Regions from separate parts of the Homo sapiens genome. Here regions 1 and 2 are each linked to region 3. Evidence: fine-mapped expression QTL. A gene starts in region 3. Each other region holds a variant in brackets. All regions are shown on one strand. Distances are between the middles of the regions. Region 1 holds the start of LOC105372452 (a long non-coding RNA gene). Region 2 holds the start of LOC122539214 (Zinc finger protein LOC122539214). Region 3 holds the start of ZNF83 (zinc finger protein 83).

Evidence for each region.
Region 1: its variant is fine-mapped to the expression of ZNF83 in fibroblasts (GTEx, PIP 0.91).
Region 2: its variant is fine-mapped to the expression of ZNF83 in skeletal muscle (GTEx, PIP above 0.99).

The regions. Positions count from the first base shown.
Region 1 is chr19:52,742,106-52,749,190 of GRCh38, reverse strand. It overlaps LOC105372452 (a long non-coding RNA gene), which reads right to left and starts at 4,451. Exons shown (of 2, transcript XR_936060.3): 1 at 4,365-4,451. The variant G/A (reference allele first, on the strand shown) is at 3,893.
Region 2 is chr19:52,686,130-52,693,214 of GRCh38, reverse strand. LOC122539214 (Zinc finger protein LOC122539214) reads left to right here and starts at 2,719. Exons shown (of 4, transcript NM_001396016.1): 1 at 2,719-2,772. It also overlaps a transcript of ZNF83 not described here. RefSeq lists a silencer at 2,547-2,756 and an enhancer at 3,050-3,585. The variant A/G (reference allele first, on the strand shown) is at 3,804.
Region 3 is chr19:52,634,266-52,641,350 of GRCh38, reverse strand. ZNF83 (zinc finger protein 83) reads left to right here and starts at 2,996. Exons shown (of 3, transcript NM_018300.4): 1 at 2,996-3,039; 2 at 6,198-6,285. LOC137778871 (a long non-coding RNA gene) reads right to left here. Exons shown (of 3, transcript NR_197425.1): 3 at 5,772-6,686. It also overlaps the pseudogene LOC124904757. RefSeq lists a silencer at 2,749-2,948 and enhancers at 3,159-3,278, 3,032-3,549, 3,550-4,068.

The DNA.
Region 1 (7,085 bases), 110 kb before region 3:
AAAGATTGGGAAAAAATTGGCAAAGAATTAAAACAGAGAAGTAGGGAGGGTAAAATCATCCCACTTATGGTATGGAATGATTGGGCCATTATTAAAGCAGCTTTAAAACCGTTTCAAACAGGAGAAGACAGCGTTTCAGTTTCTGATGGCCCTAAAAGCTATGTAATAGATTGTGAAGAAGAGACAGGGACAGAATCCCAGAAAGGAACGGAAAGTTCACATTGTAAATATGTAGCAGAGTCTGTAATGGGTCGGTCAAAGCAAAATGTTGACTACAATCAATTACAAGAGGTAATATATTCTGAAACATTAAAGTTAAAAGAAAAAGGTCCAGAATCATCGGGGTCATAGGGGCTAAAACCACGATGGCCACCTCCTCCTCAGCCAAGTGAGTGCTGGGGGAGGGAGCCTGAAACTAGGCTCACTGCAACTTGGCTCGCTGTGCCCATTATTGCCCAACTTACAGTTCATTATGGTGAAGGAGCAATTCAGACTTGCCTTGCAGCATCCTGTCTGAGTCAAACAGTGGCTGCTCCCTAAGGAAAATTTGGGGGCGCTACATAAAATAGTTAAAAAACTACTTAAAAAGGACACGTTTCACCCACTTTCTCTCCTTAGAATTCTCCTGTGTTTGTAATTCAGAAAAAATCCAGCAGATGGTGTATGTTAACTGACTTAAGAGCCGTAAATGCCATCATTCAACCCATGGGGCCTCTTCAACTCGGGTTGTCCTCTCTGGTCATGATCCCAAAAGACTGGCCTTTAATTATAATTGATCTAAAGGATTGCTTTTTTACCATTTTTCTGGTGGAGAAAGATTTTGAAAAATTTGCCTTTACTATACCAGCCATAAATTATAAGGAACCAGCCACCAGGTCTCAGTGGAAAGTGTTACCTCAGGGAATGCTTAATAGTCCAACTATTTGTCAGACTTTCGTAGGTCAAGCTCTTCAACCAGTTAGAGATAAGTTTTCAGACTGTTATATCATTCATTATGTTGATGATATTTTGTGTGCTGCAGAAACAAGAGACAAATTAACTGACTGTTACACATTTCTGCAAGCAGAGGTTGCCAACGCAAGACTGGCAATAGCATCTGATAAGATTCAAACCTCTACTCCTTTTCATTATTTAGAGATGCAGATAGAAAATAGAAAAATTAAGCCACAAAAAGTAGAAATAAGAAAAGACACATTAAAAACATTAAATGACTTTCAAAACTTGCTAGGAGATATTAATTACATTCAGCCAACTCTAGGCATTCCTACTTATGCCATGTCAAATTTGTTCTCTATCTTAAGAGGGGACCCAGACTTAAATAGTAAAAGAATATTAACCCCAGAGGCAACAAAAAAAATTAAGTTAGTAAAAGAAAAAAATCAGTCAGCACAAAGGTCCCTTAACCCCACTCCAACTTTTGATTTTTGCTACTGCACATTCTCCAACAGACATCATTGTTCAAAATACTGATCTTGTGGAGTGGTCATTCCTTCCTCACAGTACAATTAAGACTTTTACATTGTTCTTGGATCAAATAGCTACATTAATTGGTCAGGCAAGATTACAAATAATAAAATTGTGTGAAAATGACGCAGACAAAATAGTTGTTCCTTTAAACAAGGAACAGGTTAGACAAGCCTTTATCAATTCTGATGCATGGCAGATTGGTCTTACTAATTTTGTGGGAATTATTGATAATCATTACCCAAAAACAAAAATCTTCCAGTTTTTAAAATTGACTACTTGGATTTTACCTAAAATTACCAGACATAAACCTTTGGAAAATGCTCTGACAGTGTTTACTGATGCTTCCAGCAATAGAAAAGCAGCTTACACAGGGCCAAAACAGCGAGTCATCAAAACTCAATATCAATCGGCTCAAAGAGCAGAGTTGGTTGCAGTCATTACAGTGTTATAAGACTTTGATCAACCTATTAATATTGTATCAGATTCTGCATATGTAGCGCAGGCTACAAGGGATGTTGAGACAGCTCTAATTAAATATAGCATAGATGATCAGTTAAACGAGCTGTTCAGTTTATTACAACAAACTGAAAAAAAAATTTCCCATTTCATATTACTCATATTTTAGCACACACTAATTTACCAGGGCCTTTAGCTAAAGCAAATGAACAAGCTGACTTACTGGTACCATCTGCATTCATAAAAGCACAAGAACTTCATGCTTTGACTCATGTAAATGCAGCAGGATTAAAAAACAAATTTGATGTCACATGAAAACAGGCAAAAGATATTGTACAACATTGCACCCAGTGTCAAGTCCTACACCTGCCCACTCAAGAGGCAGGAGTTAATCCCAGAAGTCTATGTCCTAATGCATTATGGCAAATAGATGTCACACATGTACCTTCATTTAAAAGATTATGATGTGTCCGTGTAACAGTTGGTACTTATTCACATTTCATGTGGGCAACTTGCCAGACAGGAGAAAGTACTTCCCATGTGAAAAAACATTTATTATCTTGTTTTGCTGTCATGGGAGTTCCAGAAAAAAATCAAAACTGACAATGCACCTGGATACTATAGTAAAGCTTTCCAAAAATTCTGAAATCAGTAGAAAATTACACACAAAACAGGAATTCCCTATAATTCCCAAGGACAGGCCATAGTTAAAAAAACTAATAGAACACTCAAAACTCAGTTAAAGAGAAGGGGGAGACAGTAAGGAGTGTACCACTCCTCAGATGCAACTTAATCTAGCACTCTATACTTTAAATGTTTTAAACACTTATAGAAATCAGACTACTACCTCTGCAAAACAACATCTTACTGGTAAAAAGAACAGCCTACGTGAAGGAAAACTGATTTGATAAAAAGACAACAACAATAAGACATGAGAAATAGGGAAGGTGGTAACGTGGGGGAGAGGTTTTGCTTGTGTTTCACCAGGAGAAAATCAGCTTCCTGTTTAGATACCCACTAGACATTTAAAGTTCTACAATGAACCCATTAGAGATGCAAACAAACAAAAAAAAAAGCGCCTCCACAGAGACGGAAACACCGCAATCGAGCACCATTGACTCACAAGATAAACAAAATGGTGATGTCAAAAAAACAGATGAAGTTGCCATCCACCACGAAGGCGGAGCTGCCAACTTGGGCACAATTTAAAAGCTGACACAGTTAGCTTAAAAAAGCCTAGAGAACACAAAGGTGACACAAACTCCAGAGAACACGCTGCTTGCAGCTTTGATGATTGTATCAACGGTGGTAAGTCTCCCCACGCCTGCAGGAGCAGCTGCAGCTAATTATACCTACTGGGCCTATGTGCCTTTCCCGCCCTTAATTCGGGCAGTCTCATGGATGGATAATCCTATTGAAGTATACGTTAATAATAGTGTATGGGTACCTGGCCCCACAGATGATCGTTGCCCTGCCAAACCTGAGGAAGAAGGAATGATGATAAATATTTCCACTGGGTATCATTATCCTCCTATTTGCCTCGGGAGAGCACCAGGATGTTTAATGCCTGCAGTCAAAAATTGGTTGGTAGAAGTACCTACTGTCGGTACCACCAGTAGATTCACTAATCACGCGGTAAGTGGAATGTCACTCAGGCCACAGGTAAATTATTTACAAGACTTTTCTTATCAAAGATCATTAAAATTTAGGCCTAAAGGAAAGCCTTACCCCCAAAAAATCCCAAAGGATCAAAAGACACAAAAGTTTTAGTTTGGGAAGAATGTGTGGCCAATAGTGCGGTGATATTACAAAATGATAAATTCGGAACTATTATAGATTGGGCACCTCGAGGTCAATTCTACCACAATTGCACAGGACAAACTCAGTCATGTCCCAGTGCAGAAGTGAGTCCAGCTGTTAACAGTGACTTAACAAAAAGTTTAGCCAAACATAAGCACAAAAAATTGCC[G/A]TCTTTCTACCCTTGGGAATGGGGAGAAAAAAAAATCTCTACTCCAAGAACAAAGATAATAAGTTCTGTTTCTGGTCCTGAACATCCAAAATTATAGAGTCTTACTGTGGCCTCATACCGCATTAAAATTTGGTCTGGAAATCAAGCTATAGAAACAAGAGATCGTAAGCCATTTTATACTATCGACCTAAATTCCAGTCTAACAGTTCCTTTGCAAAGTTGTGTAAAGCCCCCTTATATGCTAGTTGTAGGAAATATAGTTATTAAACCAGACTCCCTTGTTGCCCATGTTGGTCTCAAACTTCTGGGCTCAAATGACCTGCCTGCCTCAACTTCCCAAAGTGCTGGGATTACCCAGCTGGGCCACGACTCCCGTCTGATCTTGCAATTTTCCAGAGGAGGAAGACCAAGGCAGCCTATTGGCCCTTCCAGGCCATCTCGTGGGAGTCAGCCACACCTATTTTCTACTCACCTCAGAGCTTCTCAGGATAACTTGGTGAAATGTCTCCCGTTGTGAGCCTCAGTGAGCCCCCCTTAACATAGAGGTGAGGAATAAGACTGGAAAAGCTCAGTCACAGTGACAGTGACCCCTGAAATGACTGGCAAAATACAGTGTGTGGCTTTTCTTCTCGAGAGGTTAGTGCTCAGTTTGTTTGTTTGTTTGTTTGTTTGTTTTTGAGACTGACTCTCGCCCTGTGGCCCAGGCTGGAGTGCAGTGGTGCGATCTCGGCTCACTGCAACCTCCACCTCCCGGGTTCAAGCGATTCTCCTGCCTCAGCCTCTCGAATAGCTGGGATCAGAGTTGGTTTTCAATATTCTTTTGGGTTGTGGGAGAAAAATGTTTGAAGACCTTGTCCCTATGGATCTGTGCCCCCAGGACCTCTCTGACCTCATCTATCTGTGCCCTCCTTTCTTCCACTGCTCCACCCACACGGGCCACTTTCCTCTTCCTGGGGCTGAGATTGCTCCTGTCTCAGGGCCTTTGCTTGAGCTGTCCCTCTGCCTAGGACTCTCTGTCCCCTCAGCTGCAAGTGACAAGCATCATTTCTTCCCTAGGTGTTTGTTCTGGTATCACCTTCTGTGTGGAAACCTTTGTGATCTCACACAGATCCGCATTTGACATTGCAGCTGTGAGCCCAGGACTTCTCAGACAGATCTCAGTTAATTTAGAAAGTTTATTTCACCAAGGTTGAGGACACACCCGTGGCACAGCCTCAGGAATTCCTGATGACATGTGCCCCAGGTGGACGGGGCACAGCTTAATTTTATACACTTTAGGGAGACACCAGTCAATATAGTAACAAGTACGTTGGTTTGGTCTGGAAAGGCAGGACAACTTTAAACAAAGCCAGGGAGACTTGAACTTGAAGCAGGGAGGGGGCTTCCAGGTCACAGATAAGTGAGGCACAAATGGTTGCGATCTTTTGAGGTTCTTTTTTTCTTTTGAGATGAAGTCTTGCTCTGTGGCCCAGGCTGGAGTGCAATGGCAGGATCTTGACTCACTCCAACCTCTGCCTCCTGCATTCAGGTGATTCTCCTGCCTCAGCTTCCCAAGTAGCTGGGACTACAGGTGCATGCCACCATGCTCAGATAACTTTTGTATTTTTAGTAGAGATGTTTCACCATGTTGGCCGGGCTAGTCTTGAACCCTTCACCCCAAGTGATCTGCCTGCCTTGGCCTCCCAAAGTGCTGGGATTACAGTCCTGAGGCACTGTGCTGGGTCCTTCTTTTGAGTTTCTGATTAGCGTTGCCAAAGGAGGCACTCAGATAAGCATGTATGTCAGGGAGCAGAGTGGTGACTTTGAATAGAAGGTGAGTCTGGTTTTCTAAGCAGTACCTAGCTTGACTTTTCCCTTTTGCTTAGTGATTTGGGGTCCCCAAATTTATTTTCCTTTCACACAGCCCAACCCTCACACCACCTCTGGTCTATCTTGCCTGTTCTGTGTGATTACTTTTGTGCCTTTGTCATCCACTCTCTGGATCCTAGTGAGCACAAGGCCCCAAGGGGAGGGCGGAGCAAGAACTTGGGGCTGTGCTGGGCTCGCCCCATCTGAGTGGAGCTCAACCCTGGCTTCACATTAGAGTGCAGAGCATTTTGCAAATAGAGCTTTTGTGTTGCTTTAGCAGGGATTCTTATTCTGATGGGTTGGAACCCACCCTCAGTAATACCTGCAGTGGCGCAGGTGCTTGTCATCTGTGTGCAGCATTGAGCATGGAAGCTCTGTGTCCTCCATTTCTGAGTGCTGAGCTCAGCCTGTGATCCACAGAGAGTGAGGGGCTGTCCTCCAGATGGGGATTGATGAGGGATGAGGGACGAGTCTGTGCCGAGGGGAGATCAATCCAGCCCAGCTCCCCCCCGCCCCCCCGTTACCTCGTATGTGGGTGTTTTCTAGGAGGGGAGTGAGATCTGAAGACCTGGGTCAAATATACACTTGTAGGTCTTCCTGTGGGACTTTCTTATCTCTGCATGATCTCTGGTGCAGTGGGAAGCAGACGACCATCTTTCTACGGGTGAAATCTCTCCTGTCTGTGGGTTTTTGCCCCAGGAAGGGAATGAGTCATTTCTAACATGAAGTCTCATATTTTTTTTTGTGGGGAGAAGAAAGAGAGATCAGATTGTTACTGTGTCTATATAGAAAAGGAAGACATAAGAAACTCCATTTTGATCTGTATGAAGCAAAACTGTTCTGCTTTGAGATACTATAAATCTGTAAATTTAGCCCCAACCCTGTGCTCACGGAAACATGTGCTGTATTGAATCAAGGTTTAATGGATTTAGGGCTGTGTGGGCTGTGCCTTGTTAACAGTATTTTTGCATGCAGTATGCTTTGTAAAAGTCATGCCATTCTCCATTCTCTATTAACCAGGGACACAATGCACTGCGGAAAGCCACAGGGACCTCTGCCCAAGTAAGCCTGGGTATTGTCCAAGGTTTCCACCCACTGAGACAGCCTGAGATATGGTCTTGTGGGAAAGGAAAGACCTTATATCCCCCAGCCCAACACCAGTGAAGGGTCTGTGCTGAGGAGGATTAGTGAAAGAGGGAGGCCTCTTTTCAATTGAGATAAGAGGAAGGCATCTGTCTCCTGCTCGTCCTGGGAATGGAATGTCTAGGTGTAAAGCTGACCATTCTTTGTATTCTGAGATAGGAGAAAACTGCCCTGTGGCTGGAGGTGAGATATGCTGGCAGCA
Region 2 (7,085 bases), 52 kb before region 3:
TCACCACCACACCCTGTTAATCTTTGTATTTTTAGTAGAGACAAGGTTTCACCACATTGGCCAGGTTGGTCTCCAAACTCCTGAGCTCAAGTGATCCACCCACCTTGTCCTCCCAAAGTCCTGGTGTGAGCCACCTCACCCATCCCCTCTTCACTAATTTTTAATTTACCTAATGAATTCTGATTTTGAACCCATGTATTGCGTTTTTTCATTTAGTTACTCTATTTTTAGCCCAAGAGTTTCTGTGTAGTTCTTCATAGTTTCTGTATGTTGGTTGACCTTTGAATTTTCTGCATGCATTGCTTTTATAGTTTCTTGAAGCTGTCTCTTATTTCAATGCATTTCCAACTTTTTGGTGGATGTGGGTAACGGGGTCTCACTATGTCCCCCAGGCTGGAGGGCAGTGGTGCGATCTTGAGTCACTTCAACCTCTGCTCTCCAGGGTCAAGCAATCCTCCCACCTCAGCCTGGTGAGTAACTGTGGATGTGTCCTCTCTAGGTTTTTGCTTCTCATCTCTGAACTGAAGTTGATTTAAGTGTGTGTGGATGTGGTCTGAAGTGTGCAGGAGAGATTAATGGAGAAGCCCAACATGGTGAAACCCAGTATCTACTAAAAACAGAAAACAATTAGCCAGGCGTGGTCGCACTGGCCTGTAATCGCAGCTACCTGGCTGACTGGGGCAGGAGAACTGCTTGAACCCGGGAGGTGGAGGTTGCAGTGAGCCGAGATAGTGCCAGTACACTCCAGCCTGGGTGACAGAGCTAGACGCTGTCTGAAAAAATGACAGCAACAACAAACAAACAACTAAAAAAAAAAAGGTTATTCTGTAAATAATTAGGAAGACTAAGCAGCCCCAGAGTTAAGACCTTTTGGCATCATTGTCCCTTCTTATGGAGTGATAAAGTAACCTTCCTTGAAGTGTATCAATCCATCACCAGTCAAGTTGCTGCACCCTAGGCACTGGTCTTGAATGGAAAATGTGATTCTGGTAAAGCTTCTCTGTCTTTTCCTATGTGTGTAAAATCTTAACGTCTCCACCTGAGAACGCTGATCCTATTCATTTGAAGTTGATGTTTCCAGGTGGCTATTTCCAAGCTTTGTGTTCAAACAAACTCTGCACTTAATCATATATTCTAAATTTTATTATTTACCTCTGACATCAGTGTCTGTCGTATTGTAGGAGTCTCACCAGAGAGGGCACCTGTCCCCATGTTGTGAAACTCACACTTGTCAAAAAGACATGGGTTAGGGTTTTTCCCCCTCCCTCGGGATGAAGCTAATTAGCTGACACAGATGGTCACCTCCATTACCAAGTAAAGCCAGGATGAAGTATGTGTGACCCAAGGGGTTGTCAAATCCCCTTCCCTGAGGACTGATTAGTGTTTATCTTGAAAACATGTGCTTAATGGGTTGTATAGAACAGTGACATTTCTTTCTCTCTTTTCAACCTCATAGCTGTTTGCCTCTATTTCCCATCACATTTGAGTCTAAGGTTCTTTATTAAAATGGTTTTTATTTATTTCTCTGTTGTCGTGGAGATAATTACCCATTTGGGGGAAGATTTTCTTTGTTTTCAATTATATTTTCTCAACGTTTAAACAGTAAAGAGCATTCCTTAGGCTATGCAAGGTAGCCCACGCCTGTAGTCCCAGCACTTTAGGAGGCCGAGGCAGGTAGATTACTTGAAGTTCGGAGTTTGAGACCAGCCTGGCCAACATGGTGAAAGCCCGCCTCTATCAAAAATACAAAAATTAGCCGGGCATGGTCGCTCGTGCCTCTAATACCAGTAATACTGTAATACTCCGGAGGCTGAGGCAGGAGAATCGCTTCAACCCAGGAGGCAGAGGTCGCAGTGAGCAGAGATCACGCCCCTTCACGCCAGCCTGGGCGACAGAGGGAGACTCCCTCAAAGAAAAAGAAAAGAAAAACGTGAAAAAAAAGTAATAGATTTCTTCCACAAATGTGCTGGAACAACTAACTGGATATCCACACGGAACAGAATAATGTTGGATCCCTATGTCACACCATCAAAAATTTTATTTAAAAAGGTTTAAAAAGCGAGAGAGAGAGAGAGAGAGAGAGACGGAGAGAGAGGGAGACAAGGAAGGTGGCCTTGCGGGAGGGGGTGTTACTTTGTCGCCCAGGCTGGCCTGGACCCCAGGGCTCAGCGATCTTCCTGCTCCTACTTCCTGAGTAGCTGGGACCTCAGGCTCCCGCCTTCGCGCCTGCACCCCTGCTGTGTTTAAGCAGCAGGTGGTGACCTCACTCCTCCCTGGCCTGAGCACTCCGTCCCGCACCCCAGGCAGTGGCTTTAGGGAAGTCTCTGAAGCTGAGCACAGGGCGGACCCTCCCTCCCTTGTGAATGGAGAATAGAAAGGGAGAGGAGTTCTGTTCTGTTCTGTGGGCCGTCAGCATGAAATCCTATGTTCCGCCCTGGCAGGGCTTTGCATTTCACATTCTAGTTTGCATCCCCGTTCCAGAAAATTCCAGGGCTTTTGAATCATGCCTCATACTTCCTGGCCGCTGTCGCCTCCCAAACCCGAAAAACAGAGGCGCTGGGAGCCAGGATGTGAGACACACAGGTCCCGCCCCGGCCCCGCCCTCTGCCGGTTCTAAACCGCAAAGTCTCTCTGCTTCGCGCCCCGCCGCCACCCGGCCCAGGCCCCGCCCACCACCTCGCGGGGCCCGCCGAGGCCTGGCTTCTGTCCTGCGCGCGCAGATTCTCGCAAATCTGGAAGCGGATCGCGTGGAGTGACGGTCACACCGCGGCGGTGAGTTTCGCTGTTTTGTATTAAGTCTGCATTTCCCAGGTCCTCAGCGTTTCTGTCCCTCGGACCTAGGGTCCCCACAGATCTGGAACTTCTCTCCCGTCTTCACCCAGAGCAAATAGAGACATCCCCGTGAGAGTCTGGAAGTCGCTTCCTTTTGGGTCTAAAGTCGCCCTGAGGTTGGTCCCATCCCCTGTCTTTCTGCTCTAGGGCAATGTATACACTTCCTATCGCGTAGTTGTTGTTGTTTTTTTTTTTTTTTTCTCAAAATCATTTTCAGACTCCTCCCGCCCCGCGCTTTTTAACGTCCTCACCCGCGAAGTGGATTCCCGCCGTGGGCACCTCCCAGCCTTGCCCTTGTCGGCCTCTGAAGCGCAGCGCCGCGGCCCCTGTCCCGGGGAGGCCGTGTCCTCTGCCTAGTCCTGGGATCCTGCAGACCCCACCCTTGTCCTCAGGCGCCGTCGCCCCCCACCTCCCTCCTCGTGCCGGGCCCTGCTGCTCCCCAGGTCTCTCCTCCGCAGTCACCGCTTCTCCTGAGCCCGCGTTGGGGAGGTGCCCGGGGCCTGTCCTGTGACACGGGGTGTTCTTGCCTGCCCAGTTCCAGCCCCTGGAAAATAAGCTCCTCCGGGATGCAGGCGTCTTACTCCAAACCCTCCTGTGATTGTGTGGGCCAAAGGGATCAGGAGACGGACAGAGAGCAGTGGAAAACCTGAGACAGAGAAAAGAAGAATGAGAAAGAGCCATAAGAGATGGCAAAGTAGAGGATGGGTGAGGGATTTGCCAAGAGACAGCAAAAGTGAAAAGAAAACGATAAGAAAGCAGGAGGAGAAAAGCAAGTGCAGAAATGTAGAGAAAAGCTGGATGTACAGAGACATGAAGGACAGCAAGGTAGGGAGAGGGGCAGCAAAGAGGGAGGCTCATCAGGGTGAGGGAGAGGAGGAGGGATTTGGAGCCAGGGCAGACAGAGCAGAGTGGTGCTGGTGGCAAGGAGAACAGAGGGAGAAGCACAGCAGGGAGGACACCTGGGGATCTGG[A/G]GTGCTAGAGAGTGGGGATGAGGGTATAACAGGGAAGAGAGAATGTAACAGGGAGAGCAGAGGAGGCGCTGAGATGGGAGAAGAGGCGGAAATATTTGTGTTAGGGGAAACTGAAGAATGGAGAGACCAATATGAGAGAAACAGAATTGTTTATTTTAGGTACGCACTGGCTCAGTGGATTCATATCCAAAAAGCTGAGCACTGAACAAAGACAGAGCAGGGTTTTTATAAGTGGCCTTACAAAAGCAAAACAAAAGCAGTTAATTATACAGTGACAGGTTGTGTAATCTATAGCATAACATATCTTGTGACCTTGGGTTGCCGGTGGCCTTGTAGCTGCATCAAAGGAAAAACAAGAACTGACTAAATACAGACATTTGTAAAACATAATAATGCTTAAGAAGCCTGGAAAAAGAGTAACAGTAAAATAATCTCTCTCTTTTTTTTTTTTTTTTTTTTTTCCTTCAACCTTGCTCTGGAAGGTGGGGGTGTCTGGAGCCCATTCATTTAGACTTGGCTATTCGGACAGCGTTATCCTGTAACCGTTCTTGATGTGAGCTTGACAGGCAGAGGAAAACTTGTTCTTTTCTTTTTATTTTTAAACCTTGCCTTGCCACATTGTGGGCCTTAGCTTTTACTTTTCTTGGAGTGAATAAATGCAGTACTTATTATTTTTAAATTTCTGTCCATATAGAGATAGAGGATGATCAAAAGATTGGGGAGAAGAGCAGCAAGATGTTAGATAAGTTACAAGGATGGAGCAGAAGAGGTGGAAGAGAAGGAATAGAGTGAAGAAGGGGATAAACAGCAGGAGAGGAGAGAGGTACAAAATGAGGAGCAGAACCCCGGGGGAAAATAAAACAAGAGCTAGAGAGAGAAGGGGAGAATGAGAGATACGTACAGAATCAGGGAAGGAAGCAAAGTAATGAAGAAAGAGAGGCTGGGTACAGTGGTTCATGCCTGTAATCCCAGAACTTTAGAAGACTGAGGCAGGGGGATTGCTTGAGTCCAGGAGTTCTAGACCAGCCTGCACAACATAGTGAGATCCTTATCTCTGCCAAAAAAAAAAAAAAATTAATCGGGTATGATGGTGCGCACCTGTAATCCCAGCTACTCTGGAGGCCAAGGGAGGAGGATCACTTGAGCTCGGGAGGTCCAGGCTGCAGTGAGCCAAGATCATGCCACTGCACTGCAGCCTGGTCAACAGAGTGAGACCCTGTTACCAAAGAAAAGAAGGGGCAGGGGGACTTTGGGATCAGATGAGTAGGTGAGTTTATTGGCTATGATTAGTTGTGACATGTTGACTTCTGTGTATATAATCTAATAATTTAAAACTTGATTAAATTATAAAGATGAGATTGAGAATTTTAAAATTCCTGTCTATGAGACATGTACATTCTGTAAATCTTGGCATCAGAGGTTAGCTTCCAGTTGGAATCCCTATTCAGCCAGAGAGCAGTGACTTATTGAGTTGGAAGTTACTCTCTTCCCTTTTCCCAGGGTGGGGTAGGACGTGGGGCAGTGAAGTGCAACAAAAATCACTTTCTGTTATTACACAATACTTTTAATTTAATTAATTAATATTTTGAGACAGGGTCTGGCTGTATCACTCGGGCTGGAGTGCAGTGGCGTGATCTCCTCTAACTGCAGCCTTGGCCCCCTGGGGTCAAGTGATCCTCCTACCTCAGCCTCCTGAGTAGTTGGGACCTCAGACATGAGCCACCAAGCCCGGCTAGTTATATATATATATACATTATATATATATATATATATATATACATTATATATATATATACACATTATATATATATACATTATATATATATATATATAAAATTTATATATATATAAAATTTACACATATAATTTATATATATAATTTATATATAAAATTTATATATAATTTATATATCTATATAAATTATAATTTATATAGATATATAAATTATAATTTATATTATAATTTATATAGCTATATAAATTATAATTTATATTATAATTTATATAGCTATATAAATTATATATATATAAATTATAATTTATATTATAATTTATATAGCTATATAAATTATATATCTATATATATAATTGTAAAACGGGGTTTTAAATTCCCAAGCTGGTCTCAAAATCCTGGGCTCAAAGGATCCTCCTGCTTTGACCTCCCAAAGTACTGGGATTACAGGGTTGAGGCACTGCGCCTGGCCTACATAGTACTTTTTTTTTTTTTTTTGAGATGGAGTTTTACTCTTGTTGCTCAGGCTGGAGGGCAATGTTGCAATCTCAGCTTAGTGCAACCTCTGCTTTCTGGGTTCAAGCAATTCTCCTGCCTTAGCCTCCTGAGTAGTTGGGATTACAGGCATGCGCCACCACTCTGGGCCAATTTTGTATTTTTAGTAGAGACAGGGTTTCTCCATGTTAGAGAGGCTGGTCTCAAACTCCTGACCTCAGGTGATCTGCTCACCTCGATCTCCCAAAGTGCTGGGATTACAGATGTGAGCCACTGCACCCAGCCCATAGTACTTTCTAAAATGGACATCAAAGCCAGGTGTGGTATCTCATGCCTGTAATCCCAGCACTTTGGGAGACCGAGGTGAGAGAATCACGTAAGGTCAGGAGTTCAAGAGCAGCCTGGCCAACATGGTGAAACGCCGTCTCTATGAAAAATACAAAACTTAGCCAGGCATGGTGGCGTGCACCTGTAGTTCCAGCTGCCCAGGAAGATGAGGTACACAATCACTTGAACCTGGGAGGTAGAGGTTGCAGTGAGCTGAAATCATGTTGCTGCACTGCAGCCTGGGTGGCATAGCGAGTCTCCATCTCAGAAAAACAAACAAACAAAAAATAAAAAATAAAAGGGGTATCAAAAGTGCTTTTGTTCTTGTTGTGTAATAGATTTCTTTTTTTTTTTCTTTCTGGTTTCTCATTTATTTATATATATATATATATATATATGTAATTTTTTTGCAGTTGGAGTTTGAGAAAAATCTTAGTTTTAAGAGTATCTTTTTTAATACTTAATCACTTCTGAAAGATGGCTTTGTGGCATCCTATAACCAGCTCACATCATTCCTTTCTGTACATGTATATGTTCCAGTTAAGTTCCCGTTGACCTCAGAGTTTGTTAGATTTTTTTTTAAAACAATTTAAAAATAGTTTCGGTTTGAAATTAGTTGCATCCAGTTCAGATCGAGGTCTGCATGCTTTCTAGTTTTTATTATTTATTGGAAAACTTTGGTACCTCATACAGAAGTTTGATTGTTTCAGTGTGTACCTGGTAAAGAT
Region 3 (7,085 bases):
TATTTCACTTAGTATTGCTATTGCTATGTTCTTGAGGCAGACGCTCAGTCTGTCAGATAGATACATTACCAGAGCTTGGTGTCTTCCATATTTCTGCTTAGGACTCTGTGGACCATGAGTGTATAAACTTAAGCAGGAACCTAGGAGAGCTAGAGCGTGGGGGCGGTGCCTGGAACAAGACTGGGGCGGGGCAAGAGGGAGGAGGCCGCCTGGGGGCCAGGCCATACAATGGGAAAGGGCAGAACCAGAGGGTTATCGTCATCTTGGGGGCGGGGTCTGGAGGGGGTGTTGTTCTGAAGGGTGGGGGCCGGCAAGGGTCGGGTTCGGGCTCTCTCCTCAGCTGGGCCCCAGATGTCGCCTGCTGTCATCCTCTTGCCCGCCTGGACTAAATCCTCCGAGTTCTGATTGGTGGATTGGTTCTGATGTGCCGTGATATTACCCCTAATATCACAGGGATGTTTCCTGCCCATTTCAAGTTAGTGTTTCAGACAATCGAAGATAAAACAACATGTTGTAGTAGGACACCTGTACTGAACACTGAATCGTTTTTCCTCTTAAGTTGAAAATGGTTTTAATGCAAAGCGCCTTGTTTGAGCAGGCAGAGTCCTGCAGTCGGGGCGAACTCCCCCCTCAGTCTGGGGCAGCGCAGTGGGGAGGGCAGGGACCTCAGTAAAGGGGTGGACTGGGGCGCTGGTTGCAGAGAGGACTGACAATTAGAGTCAGTAGAACTGCTTGAACCCAGGAGGTGGAGGTTGCAGTGAGCTGAGATTGCACCACTGGGCGACAGAGCAATACTGCCTCTCAAAGAAAAACAAAAAAGAGTTTTCCTGTTAATAATTAGGAAGACTAAGCAGCCCCAGAGATAAGACCTCATGGGATCATTGTTACTTCTTATGGAGTGATAAAGTGACCTTCCTCGAATTGTATCAATCCATAACCAATCAAGTTGCTGCAACCTATGCACTGGGCTTGAATGAAAGCTGTCATGATTCTGCTAAAGATTCTCTGTCTTTCCCTGTGTGTGAAACCTTAACGTCTCTACTTTGGAACGCCGATCTCATTTATTTGGAGTTGGTGTTTCCAGGTGGCTTTCTTCAAGCTTTGTGTTCACATAAACTCAGTACTTAATCTTACATTCTAAATTTTATTATTTACTGCTGACGTCAGTTTCTGTCGGATTGTAGGCGCCTGACCAGAGAGGGCACGCGTCGCTATGTTGTAAAACTCACACTCGTCAAAAAGACATGGGTTAGGGTTTTCCCCCTCCCTCTGGATGAAGCTAATTAGCTGACACAGATGGTCACCTCCATTACCAAATAGAGCCAGGATGAACTATGTGTGACCAAGAGTGTTGTCAAGTCCTCTTCCCTGAGGACTGATTAGTGTTTATCTTGAAAACATGTACTCAATGGGTTGTATAGAACAGTGAAGTTTCCTTGTCTCTTTTCAACCTCTTAGCTGTTTGCCTCAATTTCCCATCACATTCTGGTTTAAGGCTTACTTATTAATAATGTGGTTTTTATTTCTTTCACTATTATCATCGTGAAGATGATTTCTCATTGGGGGGAAGATTTTTTTTGTTTTCCATTATATTTTCTCAAAATTTAAAGAGTAAAGAAATGAATATTTTTTGGGCCAGGAAGTGTGGCTTATGACTATAATCCCAGCACTTTCAGAGGCTGAGGCAGTCAGATCACTTGAAGTCAGAAGTTCGAGACCAGCCTAGCCAATATAGTGAAACCTCGTTTGTATCGAAAATACAAAAATTAGCCGGGCATGGTTGTGCGCGTCTGTAATGTCAACTACTCCGGAGGCTGAGACAGGAAAATCGGTTCAACCCAGGAGGCAGAGGCTGCAGTGAGCCCAGATCTCGCCACCGCATTCCAGCCTGGCCAAAAAAGAAAACTCTGCCTCAAAAAAAAAAAAAAAAAAAAATAGAAAAAACTAAATATATAAAAGAAAATAAGCCGGGCGCGGTGGCTCACACCTGTAATCCCAGCACTTTGGGAGGCCGAGGCGGGCGGATTACTTGAGGTCGGAAATTTGAGACCAACCTGACCAACATGGAGAAATCCCATCTCTACTAAAAATACAAAATTAGCAGGGCATGGTGGCACATCCCTGTGATCCCAGCTACTTGGGAGATAGAGGCATGAGAATCGATTGAACCTGGGAGACAGAGATCGCGCCATTGCACTCCAGCCTGGTCAACTAGAGCAAAACTCCATCTCAAGAAACAAAAAAAGAAACTGATAGATCTCTTACACAAATACGCTGGGACAACTAACTGGATATCCACGTGGAAAAGAATAATGTTGGATCCCTATGTAACATCATCAAAAATTTTATTATAAAAAAGAAAAGAGAGAGAGAGACGAGGAAGGGAGCCCTGCGGGAGGGGGTGTTACTTTGTCGCCCAGGCTGGCCTGAACTCCCAGGCTCGGCGATCCTCCCGCCGCTGCTTCCTGAATAGCTGGGACCTCAGGCTCCCACTCCCGCGCCCATATCCCAGCTGTGTTTAAGCCGCAGGTGGTGACCTCACCCATCCTTGGCCTGAGCACTCCATCCTGCATCTCAGGCAGTGGCCTGAGTCTCTAAAGCTGAGCACAGCGTGGACTCTCTCCCAAGTGAATGGAGAATAGAAAGGGAGAGGATTTCTATTCGGTTCTGTGGGCTATCAGCATGAAATTGTACCTTCCGCCCAGGCAGGGCTTTGCATTTCACATTCTAGTTTGCATCCCCGTTCCAGATAATTCCAGGGCTTTTGAATCATGCCTCAGCCTTCCTGGCCGGTCTCGCCTCCAAAACCCGAAAAATGCCTCTGCGCTGGGAACGATGCTGAGAGACTCACAGGTCCCGCCCTGGCCCCGCCCACTGCTGGTTCTAAAGGGGAAAGTCTCTCGGCTTCCCACCCCGCCCCTACCTCATCCAGGCCCCGCCCACCTCGCGGGCCCCGCCCAGACCTGGCTTCTGTACTGCGCGCGCACATGCGCGCAAACCCGGAAGCGGATTATGTGGAGTGAAAGTTACACCGTGGCGGTGAGTTTCGCTCTTCTATTAAGTCTGCGCTTACCAGGTCCCCGGCGCTGCTGTACCTGAGACGTGGGGTCCCCACAGACCTGGAAATTCTCTCCCTTCTTCCTTCACCCAGGACAAATTGAGACGTCCCCATGAGAGTCCGGATATCGCTTCCTTTTGGGTTTAAAGTCGCCCTGAGGCTGGGCTGTCCCCGGTCTTTCTGCTGTAGGGCGATGTATACACTTCCTGTCGCGTAGTTTTCCTGCTCAAAACTGTTTTCTGACTCCTCCCGCCCCTCGCTTTTTAAAGTCCTCACCCGAGAGCTGGATTCCCGCCCTGGGCGCCTCCCACCCTCGCCTTCGTAGGCCACTGGAGCGCAGCGCCAGGGCCCCAGTCCCAGGGAGGCCGCGTACTTTGCCTGGTCCTGGAATCCTGCAGACCCCAACCTTGTCTTAAGGCGCCGTCTCCCCCCCACCTCCCTCCTCGTGGCGGGCCCTGCTGCTCCACAGGTCTCTCCTCCACAGTCACCTCTTCCCCTGAACCCGCGTTGGGGAGGTACCCGGGGCCTGTCCTGTGACACGGGGTGTTCTTGCCTGCCCAGCTCCAGCCCCCGGAAAACGAGCTCCTCCGGGATGCAGGCGTCTTATCCAAACCCTCCTGTGATTGTGTCGGCCAAAGGCATTGGGAGACAGAGCAGTAGAAAAGCTGAGACAGAGAAAAGAATGAGAAAGACCCATAACAGAGGGCAAAGTAGAGGGTGGGTGATGGATTTGTCAAGAGACAGCAAAAGTGAAAAGAAAAAAAAAGAAAGCAGGAGGAGAAAAGTAACTGGAGAAACGTAGAGAAACCTAGATGTACAGAGAGATGAAGGACAGCAAGGTAGGGAGAGGGGCAGCAAAGAGGGAATCTCATCAGAGTGAGGGAGAGGAGGAGGGATTTGGAGCCAGGGCAGACAGAGCAGAGTGGTGCTGGTGGCAAGGAGAACAGAGGGAGAACCACAGCAGGGAGGACACCTGGGGATCTGTGGTTCCACATATTGGGGACAGGGGGTATAACAGGGAAGACGGAATTTAACAGGGAGAGCAGAGGATGCACAGAGATGGGAGAAGAGGCGGAAATATATCAAGATTGAGGACGATAGAACGATTGGGGAGAAGGAACAGCAAGAAGTTAGGTAAGTTGCGAGGATGGAGCAGAAGAGGTGGAAGAGAAGGAATAGAGGGAAGAAGGGGATAAACAGCAGGAGAGGAGAGGGGTACAAAATGAGGAGCAGAATGCCAGGTAAAAAGAAAAGAAAACAAGAGCTAGAGAGAGAAGGGGAGAATGAGAGATATGTACACAATTAGGGAGGGAAGCACAGTAATGAAGAAAGATGGGCTGGGCGCAGTGGCTTACGCCTGTAATCCCAGCACTTTAGGAGACTGAGGCAAGAAGATTGCTTGAGTACAGGAGTTCGAGTCTAGCTTGGGCAACATAGTGAGACCCCCATCTCTACCAAAAAAAAAAAAAAACAACCGGGCATGATAGTGTGCACCTGTAATCCCAGCTACTCTGAAGGCCGAGGCAGAAGGATCACTTGAACCCAGGAGGTCCAGGCTGCAGTGAGCCGAGATCATGTCACTGCACTCCAGCCTGGTCAACAGAGCAAGACCCTGTCTCAAAAGAAAAAAAGGGGCGGAGGACTTTGGGTTTAGATGAGTGGGTGAGTTCATTGGATACGATTAGTTGTGACATTTGACTTCTTTGTATATAATCTAGTAACTTAAAACTGCTTAAATTATACAGATGAGATTGAGAATTTTAAGAATCCTATCTATAAGACATGTACATTCTATGAATGTTGGCCTCAGAGGTTAGCTTCCACTTGGAATCCCTATTCAGCTACAGTGGAGTGACTTATTCACTTGTGAGTCACTCTGTTCCCTTTTCCCAGAGTGGGGTAGGGAGTGGGGCAGTGAAGTGAGAAAAAAATCCCTTTCTGTTAACACATAATTTTTAACTTAATTAATTAACTAACATTAAGAGACAGGGTCTGGCCAATTGCCTAGGCTGGAATGCAGTGGCATGATCTTTAACTGCAGCCTGGTCCTCCTGGGCTCAAGTAATCCTCCTACGTCAGCTTCCTAAGTAGCTGGGACCACAGTGATGAGCCACCAAGAAGCCCGGCTAGTTTTCTTTTTCTTTCTTTTTTTTTTTTTTGTAGAAACGAGGTTTCACTGTGTTTCCCAGGCTAGTCTCAAAATCCTGGGCTCAAAGTATCCTCCTGCCTTGGCCGCCCAGAGTACTGAGATTACAGGAAAGAGCCACCGCACGTGGTCTACATAGTTTTTTTTTTTTTTTGAGTTGGAATTTCCCTGTTGTTTCCCAGGCTGGAGTGCAGTGGCGTGATTTCGGCTCACCACAATCTCAGCTTCCCAGATTCATGCGATTCTCTTGCTTCAGCCTCCCAACTAGCTGGGATTACAGACGCCCACCAAGCCCAGCTACTTTTTGTATTTTTAGTAGAGATGGAGTTTCACCATGTAGCCCAGGCTACTCTCGAACTCCTGACGTCAAACAATCTGCCCACCTTGGCCTTTCAGAGTGCTAGTATTACAGGCATGAGCCACTGTGGCCAGCCCAATTTTTGTATTTCTAGTAGAGGGTTTCAACATGTTGGCAGGCTGGTCTCTAATTCCTGAGCTTAAGCGATTCTGTCTCCTCAGCTTCCTAAGTAGCTGGGAACATAGACACACAGACGTGTACCTTCATGCCTGGCTATGTTTTTGTATTTTTGGCAAAGATGGGGTTTCACCATGTTGCCCAGGCTGATCTCAAACCCCTGAGATTAAGCGATCCACCTGCCTCAGCCTCCCAGAGTGCTGGGATGACAGGCATGAGCCACTGCACCCAGTTTCTGCATGGGGTTTGGTCAGGGCTGGGTCTGCGCCCTGAAGAGGAGCTCATTCCAGCCCAGCTCCCCACTGCTGCAGCGTGTGTGGACTCCTCCAGAAGGGTGTGGTGTGGGCTTCTCCAGAAGGGTGCGGGAGTTTTCCTGTAGGAGTTTATCGTCTCTGGTGCAGTGGGCAGCAGAGGGGACCATATTTCCTCAGGGTGAGGTCTCCTTTGTATGTGTTGTTATGTTACAGGAATGGGGTGTATTGATTCTGAGCAATAAACAACATATTTTTAACATTCAGGATTGACTTCTAAGGACTCTTGGTACATGAGGAAGAAACCCGGAAGGGGAAGAGGAAAGCAAAGGCGTCAGGAATGGTTCTTCCTCAGGTGAGATGATATTCTCGGTGGATTGTTCTGTCTCTTTCCTTTCAGAAACCCTGGGCCTTGGAGTTGGGAATCTTCTCTGGGTCTCAAGAAGTGTCCTGCCTGACAGGTTTGCTCACACTCACCCATGCCTTCCCTCAGTCCCTCTCATCTCACTTAGATTCCATCTCTTGTGACCCAATCACATGAACTTGGGAAGAGGCTGCACTGGGCATGGTCCTGGTAAGGGCCCACACCCAGACATGGATGGAGACGGGGTGAGGGTCCCGTGGTGTCAGTGCTGTTGGGCAGCAGGGATTGTTCAGGGGCCACATCTGGATGCTCTGTCAACTCTCTGTGGACCAGGATTAGAGCAGCTGCCAATGGAAGTCACGTATTAATGTCCACGAAGTATGTGGTAAATTCTAGAAAAGGAGACAAATAAGGGGAAATCTTTTCTCCCTGATTTTATACTATATTTTTAGGTAATTTAGTGAGTTACTTTGTTTCTGACTCCAAAAATCTTACTAATTAGAATGGAAAGTTCATACACAGACATGCATGATACAAGGTGTTTTATTCCATCATTATTTTAAGAATAGGAAATCAACCTGAATAATAGCAGGAGATTCTTTAAACCATTCTTAGCACATTAAGCTCGTGGAGATTGTGGTGTTAAGAGGCTTCTGAAACAGGTGTTTTTGGTAAAAATAGTTACTATTTTTCTCAACTATGGGAGAAGCACTTTTGTATCCTAGAGGATGGAGCCATATTCTCATTCCACCTATTATTATTATTATTATTATTGTTGTTGCTTTGAGATG